2 separate regions of the Homo sapiens genome follow, and region 1 is linked to region 2. Evidence: fine-mapped expression QTL. Tissue or cell type: whole blood. Region 2 holds a variant in brackets; the other region holds the start of a gene. All regions are shown on one strand. Distances are from middle to middle.

The links. PIP is the estimated chance that this variant, and not a neighbour inherited with it, causes the effect.
Region 1: NEURL1B starts here. The variant in region 2 is fine-mapped to the expression of NEURL1B in whole blood (TOPMed, PIP above 0.99).

What each region holds. Positions count from the first base shown.
Region 1 is chr5:172,636,901-172,645,078 of GRCh38, reverse strand. It overlaps NEURL1B (neuralized E3 ubiquitin protein ligase 1B), which reads right to left and starts at 3,816. Exons shown (of 5, transcript NM_001142651.3): 1 at 3,642-3,816. The coding sequence starts at 3,672. LOC107986478 (a long non-coding RNA gene) reads right to left here. Exons shown (of 3, transcript XR_001742996.2): 3 at 6,601-8,178. RefSeq lists a silencer at 3,765-4,054.
Region 2 is chr5:172,688,760-172,696,937 of GRCh38, reverse strand. NEURL1B (neuralized E3 ubiquitin protein ligase 1B) reads right to left here. Exons shown (of 5, transcript NM_001142651.3): 5 at 5,398-8,178. The region is part of intron 2 of LOC107986479 (a long non-coding RNA gene); the gene reads left to right. Among named protein-coding and RNA genes, the nearest start is that of MIR5003, 31 kb to the right of the region's middle. RefSeq lists a silencer at 6,336-6,395. The variant C/T (reference allele first, on the strand shown) is at 4,382.

The DNA of each region.
Region 1 (8,178 bases), 52 kb after region 2:
CAGGATGCCCGGTTATTGAGCTAATACGAAAAAGCTGTTGGTTCGGTCAAGCGTGGGCCAACTTAATGATGAAACCCAACCTGTTGTTTGAATTTAGTGTATTCTCCAACCAGAGCTGCAGGTGAGCCCAAGAGGCGAGAAGGAAGGGATTGGAATGTGCTGTTAGGAGAAGGGGATGAGTCCCTCCCTCCACCTCCCCTCACTCTCATCCTGGAACGCTGCCCTCCCCTATCCCCACCTGCTTACACTTTTTTTCTCCCTTCAAATACCCAGATGAAGGCTAACGGACTCGAGAGAGAAGGACTACATGGTATGAGGAGTCAGACAGGTCTCAGTCTTTTAAGCCCAGCTTTGCCACTGCCTAACTGTATGCAAAGTGTCTTAATCTCTTTAAAATGGTGGAGAATGGCACCTTACTTTGCAGGGTTGAGTTGCAACTGGAAAGAGAGTGTAGAGCACACAGTAGGAGCTTAGTAGATGTGAGGTCCTGTGCTGCACGTTCTGTTTAAAGGGCATTTCTCTGAATATGCTGATGCACTTTGCAAGAGCTGCCAAGAGGCTTCCGCAATCGATCATAAACAACCTTCCCTTTCTTTGGCATTTCCTTATTGTATAGTGTAGCATGCCACGTGCATGGTGGGGAACCCAATAAATGTTATCTAAATCACGGGCTGGGAGGCCACAGCATGTCAGAATAAGAATGCAGGACTTTGGAGCTAAGTTAACCTAAATTGCAATCCCAGTTCTGCCAACTAGGTGAACTGTGTGAGCTGGGACAAGCCACTTTACCTCTCTGAGCCTCGGCTTCTCAACTGTAATATGGAGATGATAATGCCTACATTGCAGGGATGTTAGAAGAATTAAATTCATCCATTCATCCCATCCAACACGTACTTACTGAACATTTACTCTGTACTAGCCACTGCTCCAGGTGCTAAACGTATAGCAGTGAATAAAACAGACAAAATCTCCCTGGGGGAGACAGACAAGAAACTGCTAACTACACATACAGCGTGTCGCATAGTGACACGTGCTAAGGAGAAACTTAAAGCTGGGTCAAAGGAGTGAGTGGGGTTGGGGCAACAGCAGGCCCCTCGTTCAAGCAGAGACCCCAAGGAAGCCTGGTGGGAGCCATGGGGAGGAGGGCAGAAGAATGTGCCGGGGAGAGGGATCAGGAAGTGCAGAAGCCTTGAGGAGAAGCATGCTTGGCGTGTAAATGAAGCCACATATGCAGGAAGCCTGGCATGGAATCCAGGTGCTCAGCAAATGCCAGCTCTCTATTTCAAGTCCCGCAGAAAGAACCCCACGCATGTGTCCTTTTCCTGAGAACGAAAGCACAAGGATTCTACAGGGCAAGACTGTGCCAAGTGTTCCTTCAGCCTAAGATTCAGGCAACATTCGAGCTCCACCACCAGTTTTTGAGCCCTTGCCAGGCACCAGTCTCTGGGATGGGCAACCAGGGATACAAGATGATCAAGACAAGGGCTCTGTCCTCAGGGAACCGCAAAGAGTCACAGAGACAGGCAGTGACAATGCAGTCATTGCAACGATGAGCAGGAAAGGACTTCAGGCATCCAGATAGCAGAGCAAAGGATGAGACTGTGGGTGGTCAGGGAAAGCTTCCTGGAGGAGGTAACGACAACTGGATTTTGAAAGGCAGACTAGACAAGAAAGGACAATCCATGCATGGGGACCATCACATGCCAAGCACAGAGGTACAAAAAACAGCACAGGGTGTGCAAGAAACTCATACTGGTAGGTCGGAAAACAATTAACGGCCCTTCATATTCTTGGCATCTGCCACCCGATGTGACTCAGGAATTCCGGTTCTGACCCCTTCCTCAAACTCAGTGCAAGCTTCAATCCCCAGAGAAGAGTCTGAATTCCCCATACTTAGACACTGCAGTGGGTAACCAACCTTAACTGCCGGCTCCCAGACTAGGGTGGCCCAGTCCACAGAGAGAGAGTTGAGAGGGATGGAGAATACATAAATCTCTAGCTATATTTAGCCTGCCTGGCGTGTGTCTGTCCCTTTACGCACCCCAGGGCTGACCCACAGGTGGCAGAATGGCTTTTTACTAGAATAGTATAAACATTTTTAAATTAAGAAACCAAGGAAAGGGGCCTGTGCCGAGGTGCCTCATCCCAGTGTCTATGTGGCGAGAATATCTGCTGCCCTATTTGCCAACATCCCCAGATATCTCCTGACCCGCGGGTGGGTTCTCCCCCAACCTGGCAATAGCCCTGTCCACAGGAGGTAGAGGCCACCCTCCAGTAAGCAGACCTGGGTTCTAATCCCACCTCTGCCACTGACTAGCTGGTGACTCTGCTGATGATTACAGCTCTCTGGGAATTTGAACGTTTGAGTGCAGTTGCTCAGAGGCTTGTAAAGTAGGAGTTGGCTCCTCTTCCATAAGCTGACCCTGGGAATCCTGGGCTCAGCACTGTCCACTTCAACCCGCTCCAGGGGAAATTATTCTTTAAGAGCATGTAATGCCTAGAAGGGAGAGCTATATGGGAGTGTTATAGCAGAGATGGGGTGATATGTCCCTCTTCCAGAACCTCACACTAAATTAACCTCACAGCTGACTTGCTTCCCCATTGAGCCGAGCCTTTGTGCTTTAGACACACACACACTCCTCTCACCTTTTGCCCAAAGGATGCTACAAAGGCCCAGCCTTAAGACAAAATACTTCTAAATACTTGGGCGTGTGAGGGGAGGGAGGGCAGAGAGACACAGGTCCCACTCCAGATTCTCCCACTACTAGCTGTGTGACCTTGGGTGAGTCATTTCACCTCTTCTGACACTCAATTTTTTTATTTGTAAAACTGGGATACACATCTTTATCGCGAAGCTTCTTTGCATACCGAGCTGGGGTATGCAAAGTGCTGGGCACTGAACCTCCACGGGCACGCGCGGGCGCGGGACCGCTGATCTGTTCCCACAATTACCATGTATTTTCCAGTAAGGCCTCCTCCTACCCCGTTAACCTGCTCCGGATCCCCTCACTCCGGTCCCAGAAATTCTGGGGCGATTTTAACTAGGGGGCGATGCGATCTGCAGCAGCGACTCCGAGGGGGCGAAGGAGTCCCCAGTGGAGCGGACACCAGAGGGGGGCGCAACCGGGGTGCGCGTGGGAACGTGGCCAAAGCACGGCAGCATGTGCCGCGGGGGCGCTGGGAGGCTGGAAACTGGGGTGCCCCTGAGAGCACCCCTCACTCTCGGCAGCTGCAGTCTTGGCACCACGGGTGGCTTCTGACCGTCGGAAGCCCTGGCGAGCCCGGCTCCAGTCACCCCCACCCAGGTCGCCTTGAGTTTGCTCATCAGCGCCCTCGGGCTGGAACAAAGGCGAGGGGGCGCGCGGCATCGCCCCAGCGGCCCTTTTTGCGCATCTGGCCAAAGCCGGGAGAATGAGGACTGGGGTCCCCAAGGTAACCAGGACGCGGTACCCGCCCTCCCGGGGCGCAAAGCCCAGCCGCGGGGCGCGCGCCGAGCTGAGGTCCGGGAGGTACCGGAGACTCCAGCCCGCTGCGAGCCGAGGGCTCCAAGGGCCGTGGGGTAGCTCTCCAGAGTCACCCAGCGGGTCCCCCGGAGGAGAGAAGCCCGGCGCCCGCCTCCCGGGCAGGGCTCCCCGGCGTACCTGGCAGGGTCCGGTGCACCGTGTTGCCCATCGCTGCGTCGGGCGCGGCGTTGGCGGCGGCGCGCTCTGGGCGCGCGGAGGCTAATTACGCGGCGGGCCAGGGACCAGGACCGGGGTCGACGCTCCGGGGCATCGCAGCTGCACGGGCGAGCCGGCGGGCGGCAGCTGGGGCGGGAGCCGGGAGGGAGGCGGCGGCGGCGCCTGCGGGAGGAGGAGGCGGAGCCACCGGCCCGGGCCCGCCGGCTCCGCCCCCGCCTCCCACCGCCTCCAACAGTGCAGGGGCGGGGCCGCGGCCGCCGCATCTTTTGAAAGTTTGCACCAGGCGGCGGGAGAAGCACAGCCAAGCCTCCCGCCCTCGCCGCTCCCGCGCCCGGGCCGGGAAGGCGCGCAGGGCAGCTGGGTGCCCTCGGGTGCCAGGATCGGCAGTCTGCTGGCCTGTCACCCATTTGTTCTAACACTTTGAGAAGGCCCACTGTGTGCCAGGCCCTCTTCCAGGCGCGGGGCCCCAGCCGGCCGAGTCCTAGCCCCGGCAGACCTCTTTGGAGAGTGCTTCGGCCCCGGGGGAACTTACACAGAGGCAGACGGGCCCCTGGGACCATGTAAAGGGCTTGGAGACAGTACACCCAGGGTTCCCGGGTTTGGGTGGAGTCTTTTCTATCCCCTAGGCCAGGTACCGAGGAATAGAAGAAACCCAGTGTCCAAAGATTGGGAAGAGGGAACCCACATTCATTAATTTATTCGCTCATTCACTAAAATATTTATTGAGCACAGTCTATGCACCAGGCACTGTGCTGGGCCGGGTAGATACAGACAAGGTCCCCACTGCCCTGGAGATGGCATGCTGAAGATAGAAATAACAAGCAATTACGATCACATTATATAATAATCAAAGCCAGGAAGAAAATAAAACAGATCCCAGTAGAGTGAGGAGATGACATTGTTTGGGGGCATAGGGAGAATCTGGGGTGGGGGCACATAAGCTCCATCTGATGGACTAGAAGGCGTCGGCCATGAGAAGAGATAGGTAGAGTGTTCCTGGCAGAGGCAGTAACAGGCATTCCTCATTCAGGCACCTGGACCACACTCAGTGGGAAGTGCAGCTGTGCCCTTCTCGAGCTCCATTTCACAGGCTGGAACGCTGAGGCCCAGGAAGTGCAATGACTTCCCCAAGAAGACCCGATTCCAAATGAGCTGTTTTTTTCAATTCTATTTTTCATGCTCTTGTATCCCTTGAGACTTTATGAAATATGTATTATTACTTCCATTTCACAGATAGGGAAATTGAGGCTCTGAGAGTGGAAGAGAGGTGCCCAAGATCTTCCAATGGTACAGGGCAAAGCTAGCCTGAAGCTATGCGAATAAAAGCGGGGTATTCAGGAGACAGCCTTCTGCATCTCCGGTGCCTTCTGCTTACAGTACATGACCCATCCCAGAGGGTTCTAGGGTCTTTAAGGCCAGCTCCAAGCTTCCACTTCCGGGAAACCTTGATTCCCCACTCCCCCCTGACGTCATATGTCTGAACATAAGATTGCCTTGCATTTGAGTTACTAATTTCTCATATTACAGGTGCTCGCCCAGTGACTTAATTTTTAACCCCAAAGTTCTGTTTGAGAAAGGTCCGTTAGCGTGATCCTTTTTTTTTTTCTTTTTTTTTTTGAGACAGAGTCTCACTCTGTCACCCAGGCTGGAGTGGAATGGCACAATCTTGGCTCACTGCAACCTCTGCCTACCAAGTTCAAGCAATTCTCCTGCCTCAGCCTCTTGAGTAGCTGGGATTACAGGCACCCACTACCACGCCCCGCTAATTTTTGTATTTTTAGTAGAGATGGGATTTCATCATGTTGGCCAGGCTGGTCTCAAACTTCTGACCTCAAGCGGTTCCCCCACCTCAGCCTCCCAAAGTGCTGGGATTACAGGCCTAAGCCACCTCACCTGGCTGATCCTCCTTTAATCTATGTGACATTGGGTTGCATATGGAGGTCAGCAATATTATAAAGGGAATTGAGGGAATTTTCCTCAGATAAGGCAATGCAAACAAATATGACTTTGTGACGGCAAGGGTGAGAGGTTGTGAACAGGCCTTTTAAAGGCCACTTTCAGAGTACCTCAGTAAGTGGCCATGTTGTGCAGATCACAAATACTCACCTGCAGCAAATGAATCCCTACTGTCAAAATGTGATGCGGATTGGACCTGCGGTGGAGACACTGTGCCCAGCAGTTGCCTGACATGTGGATTCGAAAGGGCTGTGTGTTAGCCTCTGGATCTCTGAGAGTAGGACCTGCTCTAGTAAAAAGCTGCCCCCAACACACACGATGGTGACACTAGTGTCAAAGCCACACAGAAAAGAATTAGAATCAAATTGTTTCCTGAAATTTGAAACTGCCAAAAGCAATCTTTCCATATTAGTATTCTCTATGAGAATAATTGCAAATATGTTTATATAACTAAAGTAATAAATGAAATATTTCAAGTAGATGTCTATTTCATCTTCACCCCATTAAGTTTATATTATTCAATAAGAAAGTGCATCTTCTCATAGGGAGAATGGGGATTGCCTGTAATCTTTACTTGGATTACCTTATATTTGGGCACATACAGCAGTTGCTCACCCATCTGAGATCCCTCTGCACTTTGTGCTGTCCCCTCAATTACACCCTCAAGACAGGTGTTGTAGCTGTTACCTTTGCGTCCTCTCCACTGCCAGACAGGATGCTCCTGCAGGCAGGAAGAAGGCTGTAATCATCTAGGAAACCCCAGTGCCCAGAACAGGGCTGGCAGACACAGGTGCTCAATACACATTTGCATAAATTGACTGCAGAGATGCATTGCCCTGAGCTGAGAGAAAAACAGAAAAGAAGGAGAGAGGGAAGAAAGAAGGAATGGAGAAAGGTAATAAGAAGGGAGAGGAGAGAAAGAGCTGTGAGAGAATGAGTTTTTGCCATTAGTAGCCCTAGACCCTGGTGTGATGAATAGTAATATGTGCAGGGAAAAATAAGCAAATGAGCAAAATAGGGATGCATTAACAGAAATATAGTCTTTAGGACAAAGGAGGGGCTTGCTGCTCCAGTGCATGTTGGTTAGACCATTCCAGAAGTCGCTTTGGCTCTGGGCACCACACTAGAGAAGGAGGACAAAGCTAGTCCACGAAGGTGGAAGGGTGGCTTTGGGAGAGAGGGAGATCCCTGTCCCAGGAGGTGTGCAAATAGAAACCATATATTTCCTGCCAGGCAGTTGAGGAGGGGCTTCCTGAGTCACATGTCTTCTAAAGTATACCTTCCAGTACAATCATCCACTGAGCCCCTACAACCCACATGAAGCCATGGGGGTGATTTATGGTTTGAGGTTTATGAGTCTGATTGGTCCTGCCTCTACTGACCCTGAGAGGACTGCAGAGGTGCTCCCCTGTCTTTGCAGCTTGTGTACCAAGCTGATCTCCTGGGATGTGGGCCTCCCATTTTTGTTGCCTCTCCCAATCTCACCTCTTCCCACTAGCTCCCAAGCAGGGCTGGCCGGGACACTGTGGAAATGCTGTCTGCATGTATTAGGGGCCTGGGATCCAGGCACTATGTCTAACAGCAACAAGGGAAGGGAAGGGACTGTTGGACTCAGCACCTGCCGCACAGGAGACTTTATAACCACAGGGATGGAATGTGAATCTCTTCCTTCTCCAAATATTATAGTCATACCACATCCAAGGAGATAGGTTCTAGCATCCCCATTTTCCAAACGAGGACACCAAGCCTCAGACAGGTAAAGTCACATGCCTAAGTCTCTGCAGCTGCTAAGAGGAGTTGGGATGTGAACCTACGTGTGCCCATATCCAAGCCTCATCTTCTAAGCAGTGTCCCTTAAAGTTAGAGAGGACAGCTCTGCCCAGGCGCCAAGGCGGCAGGACACCAGGGCTGCAGAGGAACGGGTGGGGTCTCAGAACCAGAACCCGCAGACACTAACGGCTGCCATAGAGCCTGTGGGGCAGAGCATGGGGTGGGGACATCTTCCGGCCCGGGCAGCAGCCTCCAGTCACAGCAGCTCCTGGATTTGACTTTCACACACATACACATCTCTACCAATCACATCCAGAATTGCACAGACTGTGCCACCCTCCTTTAGCACCAGTACCCATACATGGGCTGCAGGGGCCTCTGGGTGGGGCTGTCTCTCTTGATTATGCAGCGTCAGCAGAGCCTCCCGGGGCAGTTGGTAGTGGGAGTGCCCTGGCCGGGCTCCCTGGCATTGCTCCCTGGGGGCATGCCCTGGCAGGCCCTGCCCCATGCAATAACAGGCAATCAGGTGCATGTTGTAAAAAGGGTGCACACTGAGCTGCTGTGCCAGGCTAGGGGGTATGCCCACTGCAGATACCTGCGTGAAATGACCCCTTCCTTCAGGGTGTTTGCCCAGCCTCCTCCTCACAACTCAAGAGCCGAGTATCTGCAGTCACACTGCAAAGCTCGGTTTTAAAATGGCTGCAGGAAGGCTGTGCTTTTCTACAAACCCTGACTACGAAACCTTCAATTTCCAACAGATCTTTACCTGAAA
Region 2 (8,178 bases):
AGCCAGAGAGGGTTCCTGGGAACATCCTGGTGTTTCTTTCCTGGGGTGGCCGTGGCAATCTCTCAGAGCCCCATCTCCATCCCTCTGAGGTGGGGTGGTTGTCCCTGGGGAACCCAAAGTGGGCTTGGGCCAGCGTTGAGGCTGGGGGGGCCAGCGTGGCTGCAGGCAGCTCCCCGCTCAGCTCAGTTGGGGAAGGCTTGGTGCTTCCCACGCCCCTCCTGGAATGCGGGGCTGCTCCTGGGAGTTGAGCAAAAGTGTGGCTTTCCCCTTGGAGTCTGAGGTCGGTCAGCCTCCCAGGCCTGGGGCCAGCGCTCTTGACTGGGAACCAAGACAAGCAAGGGGCGGGGGCCTGGGCCAGCCCCGAGGCCTGGCACGACCCCACCAGCAGATCACCACTCCGGTTCATTCTTTGTGGAAGGGAGGTGTGCTAATGCCAGAAATTCCACGCTGGGTGTGGGTGAGGGGTGTACACACTAAGACTCTCCTGTTTGGTAGACCCTGTGTTGGGAGCCGGGGATGCGCCGCGTCACCTGCAGATGCTGCTGACAGTGTCGCAGGGCAGGCTCACTGAGGTGGCACGGGAGGCCCAGGAGGTTGTAGGAGGATGGAGGCAGCCCCTGGCCCAGATGGGACAGGGGAGGGCATGGGCGAGGGGTAGCTGGTGTAGCAGGGTCTAGAATACTCCTAAAAAACATTTAGCACCTGCTATATGCCAGCCACTTTCTGACACAATTTGACACCCCTCTTCCTTCGAAGCTGCAGAAACTGAGGTTCAGAGAGGGTATGTAACTTGCCCAAGATCCCACAGCACAGGCAGGCCTGTCCCCTCAGCTGGAGGGAACTCACCCACCACACTAGACCCCATCACACTGGAAACCCCAGCTCAGAGCTAAGATGCCAGGATGCAGCCTCCTAAGGGCTGAGGGAGGGTGTGGTCTTACAGGGCCCACGTAGGGGCCACGAGGGGGAGGCTCAGAAGGGGGCATCCCCATCGTGCAGCTACAGGGGGCACATTCACGTAAAGTTTGGTATGTGAGAGGCACCCTTAGGAAGCCCAGTGGGGAGGGCAGGTCCTCTGCTGGCTGGGGCAGAGCATGGATGTGAACTCAGTTAGGCCGGCCCAGCCCTCCTAAGCAGGCCCACATGCTCCTGAAAGGATGGCCAAGGTCTTCGCTGGCCAGTCGGAGAGTCAGGAGAGTCAGGCTGTCTGTCTGGGGAGAAGGGTTTAGACCTGGGAAGGCCCAAGCTGAGAGGGGAGGAGGCTGACGAAAGGGGATCAGGCTGCCTGAGGCATTTCGTTTTGATGCATCTCCTCCCCAACACACCCCACTGCTGGGCTTCTGGAAGCTTCTCCATAGGTGTATTTAACAGCCAAGGTCGGGGTTCTGTTCCCATAGCTCGATGCCTGGAATAATCGTGTTTTCCACATCCCTGTGTGGGAGCTTCCAAGAGCTGGGAGATCAGAGCCTGAAGGGAAAAGCAAATATTCCCTGTCCCTGGAATTGAACGGATAGGCATTGTGTGAGTCAGGACACAGCTGATGTTCTTCTAGAAAAAGCCCTTCGAGGTGCTGAATCTGGCTGTTTTTTTCTTGTCCTTTTCTTCTTACTCTCCTTCCTCCTTTCCCTCCCCCTCCTCCTGACAATGTACCCACAGACATGCTGTGATGTGGTGGAAAGAGCCAGGCCTGGTTCAAATCCTGGCCCCACAGCTCCTAAGCAGTGTGATGTGGGGCAGCCCCTTCCCCTCCCTGTAAAATGGGACCGTAATACAATGGGTGGCTGGTGGGAGTCTGTGAAATCACAGCTGCAAATGTTCTAGGCCCATTTGCACTTGGGAACCAGGGGGTCTAGGTCCAAGGACATAATTACAAACAGAAAGCGAAGAAACTTTTTGTCTTTGAGAGGCCATATAAAGTAGGAGAAAGTTACTGATTCCTTCTCAGTCTTGGCTTCTTGCCTGTAAAATGAAGGTAATGATGGAGCCACTTCAGAGAACTGTTGTGAGGATTTACTGATGTCATGGATGTCCTTTGCACACACTAAGTGCTTATTAAATGATCTGGTATTATTATCTTTCTGGAGGATTTCTTGTCCTGCAGGAACTCAGGGAATGAGAAAAAGGGATTTGCATGCACAATAGTGAACCCCCACCGCACCAGGCTAGGTGCACCGCAGGTGGCAGGGGCTGGTGAGGGCCAGCGCACGGGCTGTGTGCACTGCAGCATGGGAGGAGGAATTGGATGTGCCAGGGAACATGGCTCAGGTGTTGGTAAGAACACACAGGGCCAGGAGAAAGAAGGATGCCTAACTGCATCGCTAAATGATCCCGAGCCCTCGTGGCCTGAATTGGATCGTTCCCACAGCTTCAGAAGTGCACTGGTCTAAACATGTCTGTTTAGGGGTCTGCCTTCCCCTCCAGATTGGTTGGTTCTTGAGGGTAAGGGCCATACCATACCTAGTTTTGTATCAGGTGTGGGCATGTGACAGGTTCAGGGATTGAGCTTTTGATCCAAGGAGTCAAAGGAGAGACAGCACTGGGACTTTTCCCGAAACTTTTTTAAAGGGTCACTAAACTGGCATGATATGAGTCACTGGAGGTTGTTCTGGTTGCTGCAAAGGGAGAGTCTGCCTGAGAGTGCCATCAGCTCAGAGGAAGGCAGAACTGAGAGACAGAGGCAGAGGCCTGACAACATCATGTGAATACCCGGATCTAGCTGTTCCTGAAGCTAGACTGATCTGTTCTGGGCGTGAGTCAGTACATTCTGCCCGCTCTTTTTTTTTTTTTTCTTAAATTGGGTTTCAGTCTCTTACAATGCAGTGGGCCTAGATTAATATGACCTTTTTTTCTTTTCTTTTTTGAGATAGAGTTTTGCTCTTGTTGCCCAGGCTGGAGTACAGTGGCACGATCTCAGCTTACTGCAACCTCCGCCTCCTGGGTTCAAGCCATTCTCCTGCCTCAGCCTCCTGAGTAGCTGGGATTACAGGTGCACACCACCACACCTGGCTAATTTTTTGTATTTTTAGTAGAGACGAGGTTTCACCATGTGGTCCAGGCTGGTCTCGAACTCCTGACCTCAGGTGATCCACCCGCTTTGGCCTCCAAAGTGCTGGGATTACAGGCTTGAGCCACCACGCCTGGCCCTACCTTTTTTTCTTTATTCAAAAAAGTTTTGATTATCAGATAGCGTCTGTGAAAATGTTGCCTGGTCCAGTAGAAGGACATAGCGTTGTGGGAAGGAAATCTGGAAGGGGAGAAAGGATCCTGGGTTTTGGACAGACTCGGCCCCTCACTAAGACTTTGGTAAAGGGGTGCGAAATGTGTCTCTGAAAGATTTTGCCTTGACTCTGGAGCAGGCCCACCTGGGGGCCAATCCTACTTTGACTTTGGCCTCCTTGCCTGTAAAATGAGAACACTATTGTGAAGATCCATTGTGAGAATGTGTGAGAACCATGGTTTGTGCTGCTTGATAAATGCTGGTTTCTCTTATCCCATTGCTTCCTAAAACTCAGTGTCACCAAGCCAGGCTCTTCTAACCATCCAGAAGGAGCAGGCCTGGGCAGCTCCCTCTCCTTGTTCACCCCATTCCCCTACTCCCAGCTCCCACTCCTGCTACCACTGCCATGTTCCACCCCAGAAATTTGGGCCCCAAAACCTAGCCTGGAGGAAGCCCAACCAAACTGGTCAGCCTGGCCTGGCCTCTGCTAGAAACGTACAGGTCCTTATCTCCACCGGACTAAATTTGGATCTTAAACTCACAGACAATCAGCCTGGGAATTCCTGACAAATTCCAGCAAGGGCCAGCTGTTCTCTTTGGCTTTTGCAGAGTAGGGAGATCATTTTTTCCAAGTAACAAGTTTAAATGAAAAGTCATACTTGCTCATTATAGAAAATTTGGGAAATTTGGGAAATTTTCTATAATGAGCAAGTATGAGAAAAAGGCACCAATAAGGCCATCACTCAGACACAGCCCTCATGGACATTTCACTCCTTTCTTTCTGGTCTTTCCAATGCATGGGTAGGTTTTTGGGCTGTTGGTGTTTTTGTTTTTTTTTTCATCTGTGAGATCACGGTGTATGTGCAATTTTATATCTTGATTTTTTTTTTAACCACACTTTAACATAAACCCGTTCCTGTGTTACAAACTAACAATTGTTGCTTGGTGCTGGGTGCCAGATGCTGTGCCTGGCACATCACTGGTATGATCTCAATAACATTTACACCCATCCTAAAATCAGGAACTATTATTGTTCTTGCTTTGAAGATGAGGAAGCTGAAGCACAAGGACGTTAAGCATCTTCCCCAATGTCTTGGTGAGGCCTTGGCAGTCTGGCTTCATGCTCATGCCATTAGCCCCATATGTATCGGTATCATGGTTTCC[C/T]GTTCCCTACACAGAGGCCTGTTGTTTTTGCCCACGCTGCATTCTTCTTCTTCTTTTTTTTTTTTTTTTTTTTTTTTAGACAGAGTCTCGCCCTGTCACCCAGGCTAGAGTACAATGGTGCGATCTCGGCTCACTGCAACCTCCACCTCTCAGGTTCAAGTGACTCTCCTGCCTTAGCCTCCTGAGTAGCTGGGATTACAGGTGCACGCCACCACGCCCAGCTAATTTTTTATATCTTGAGTAGACGCGGTTTCATGATGTTGGCCAGGATGGTCTTGAACTCTTGACCTCATGATCTGCCCACCTTGGGCATGCATTCTTTAGGACTCATTTTCTCTGGAGATTGCGATTCCCCACTTTCAGCCCAGAGTTCAGACAGGGCAGCTATTGGGTGCAGGTGAGCACCCATCCTGGGTCTGACCAATCAGAGCCCCGTATCTCCCTGTCCTGTGACTGGTTCAGGAGCGGACACGTGATCTGAGCTGCTCCGTGCAGGGAATGCTCAAAGGCAGGATGCTGGTGGCCCTGCAGGAGGCATCTTGAGAACCTGCCTGGGAATGGGGCCAGATCACAGGGCTGAGCGAGAGGGGAGAGGCTAGTCCTGATGCAGCATTTCAGACCCTGGTTCTACCTGCACGTAGAGTGAGTTCTGCTACTGGACTTTTCAGTTCCCTAGTTCTTTATCCCCCTAAAACCTATCCGAGTTGGGTTTCTGTCACTTGTAACCAAGTCTTGGTGAATACACCCTGGTTGTTGGACATGAGGGTTGCTCACAGCTTTTTACCACTCTAGAAAATGCTGCAGTGAATATCTTTACACATAGATCTCATCCTTGATTAGAATGATTTCCTTGTGATTTTCACAGAAGTGAGTTATTTGGCAAAGGCATCAAACATTGTCGGGGTTCTATAGCCATTTTGCAACTTATTTCCTCAAGACTGGCAATGATTTGGATCCTCACCTTCACTCCCCATCAGTGTATGTAAGTGGGATTTTAAAAATTGAGTTCTGAAGACTTTTTTTTTTTTAACAAGCCAAAGTTGTATTTTTTTAAACAGGAAAATTATGTCAATATAAAACAGATAAAAAGACAAAAATCAAAACACACAACACAGAAAAGCACAACACTCAAGACCAGTGCAAACCCTTCCCAACCCACTTCCCAGGTTTTAAAACCTTGATTACAGATCCCCAAGGATTAGACTGTATCGGAGAGGTCACAGTATTGAATCAGAAAAAGAAGACATGTTTTAAAAGGTCTGTACACAGGTAGTGGTGTGTGGGGTGGGGGATGTACACTTCATCACTCCAACATCAAAAAACATGATGCAAAAAGGATTTCAGCGATGACCACAGATTTCTAGAACCCTACCACGTATGCTAGCCCCCCTCCCCATCCACTTTTAAAAGTTGCTTTTAAAAAGGATAAAAAGTGCACAGACACTTTCGTAAGGCACAGACAGATTGTCACACAAGTCGTTTCATTAGGGACTCGGATAAGACAGCGAGACAGTTAAATACCGAGAAATGCCAGGAGGCCGCATGTTCCTGAGCCGGTGCCCCCTGCCAGGACTGGGGCAGGCGCAGGGCCGAGCAATGGGAGGTTATTGCCTCTGCCTCAACTGGACGGACTCACCGGGGTTCTCCTGGGCCTTGGCGACTGATTTCCAGGGCCTGAAAGCAGCAATTAGCCAACCTCCTCACTGTGTCTCCCTGGCAGGACCTGAGGGTGATCACCAACCGGCGGGGCCTCTGGGGGTTCTACTTAACGCCGTTTTGGCAGCAGCTCACTGACTGCAATGTGCCCAGCATTTCCAATGAAGAGGAGGTTCTGTGAAGCGCACAGCAGGTTCTGGTCAAGAAGGCAGCCTTTGGGCACCCACCTCAACAGACCCAAGGCAGCGGATGGCCAAGAGAGCCCAGTGGATTCTGCCCCAAATATCTCATTTCCCTCTTAGTGTCACCTCTGCCAGCATCACAGCTGGGGCACAGTCCTCTCTGCTCTATCCTCACAGCACCTCACACGTACTAGGTACTCAGCAAATGTTTCTGGAGTATCTTTGTGTGCGTTATGTGGTGCTGTTTTATCAAACCCCTGAACACTCATAATCTGATTTCTGGTTTACTCAGCAAACCTCTACTGAGTAACTACTACGTGCTGGCACAGGACCAGCACCGGGGGTCAGAGAAAAGTTCACCCTGTGTCCTGAACACAGTCCATGCTGATTAGTGGCATCGAGGGACTGGAAACGTGGTGCTGCCGTGAGGGGAGCAGCTCCATCCCAGGGGACTCCCCGTTCTGAGAACCTGCTAGGACAAGGAGCTGGATTTGCTTTGCAAACAGCCCAGTTTTTCAGGAGTCTCCGAATGAATGGGCACAAGACCATGAACAACGGGGTGTTTTCAGGTGTCCCCTGTCCTCGCCCTGGAGCCCTGGCTGCTGTGGCCCAGAAGAGCACACCATGGGCAGTGAGCCTGGAACAGCCGAGGGCTGGGTCACGTGAGGGGGTGCTCAGGGGGCTGGGGCCCCGCTTGAGGGGGTGGTGATCACGGGGCCTAGGAAGGTGGTGGGACAAGGCCCCAGGTCCCTTCCTAACTGTGGACACCCCTGAATAACAAGAGAGGGCCCTTGGGTTGGAGTCCAGATCTCTCAGACCTCAGCTCTGCCAGGAGAATGCGGGCAGTGAGCAGATGAGCCTGGAAGGGAGGCCGCTTCTCCTCCCAGGGTGTGGGCAGCGGAGGGGCCTGGCTGGGGCTGGAACCCTCCACATAGGCACAGGTGCCCGGACTCTCTCCAGGTGAGTTTCAAGGGAGAAAACTCACAGTCTCGAGCTTCCTGGGACTTGGAGCCAGGCAGTGGGAGTGTGGGATGTGGCAGCAGACACTCCCGGGTTTGAATCCCAGCCCTGCCATCTCCTGTTGTGTGATCATGAGGTCACTTCACTCACAGGACCTCAGTTTCCTTACCTGCCAAGTGGGATAACACCAGCTTTCATAGATTGTAAGTAGCACAGTTTTTTTTTCACACGTGAACATCTCTGATTGGAAGGAACTGTACAGTTGTAGCATCTTAGTTAAGATTGGCAGCGTTTTTCCCTATGGTATGTAAAACAGTGTTTTATGACCAGCAGTGTCTTTGATGTGACTTATTATGGCAATAAGACCTGCCGCACAGGATTCACGCAGGAAGGTGCCTCTCTAGCCCAGTGCCAAGGCACGCTGTAGGTGCAAAATAAAGTACAGTGGCTCCTTTTCCTCTTTCTCTTGTCCCCTTCTCAAGACAGAACATAGTGGGGACGTGTGCATCTCCTCTGTAGCACTGAGTAACGCTCAGAGCATCAGGAAACGTCTGGTTTTTAGAAGATAAACACTTCCTTACCTCCTCTTGGAAACAGGGAGGCTATTTATAGCAGCTGCAGAGCAGGTTGAACGGGCCACTGACTCGCTTCTTCCCAGGTCACAGGTGGCCAGGAGATGCCTGGTCCACCTCTGGGTCCAGGCCTCAGTCACTGGTTTCCCAGTGGAGGCTGGACGTGACCCCGGCTGGAACCCAAAGGGGCAGCCAGGAAGGGCAGGAGAGTGGAGCTGCTTTCCCCCAGGCCACTGAGACCCCACAGCTTGTGGCTGGGTCGCAGTGTAGACAGGAGACGGTTGTCTGCAGCACCACAGGCCTGGGGTGAGGAGTCCTCCCATGCAGGGCCTGTGCGTGGCCCCGCCCACACCCAGCACATGCAGGAAACCAAATTCAGCCAGGCACCCAGGGCTGCTGGATTCTCAAACTCTTATCTTGGCAAACA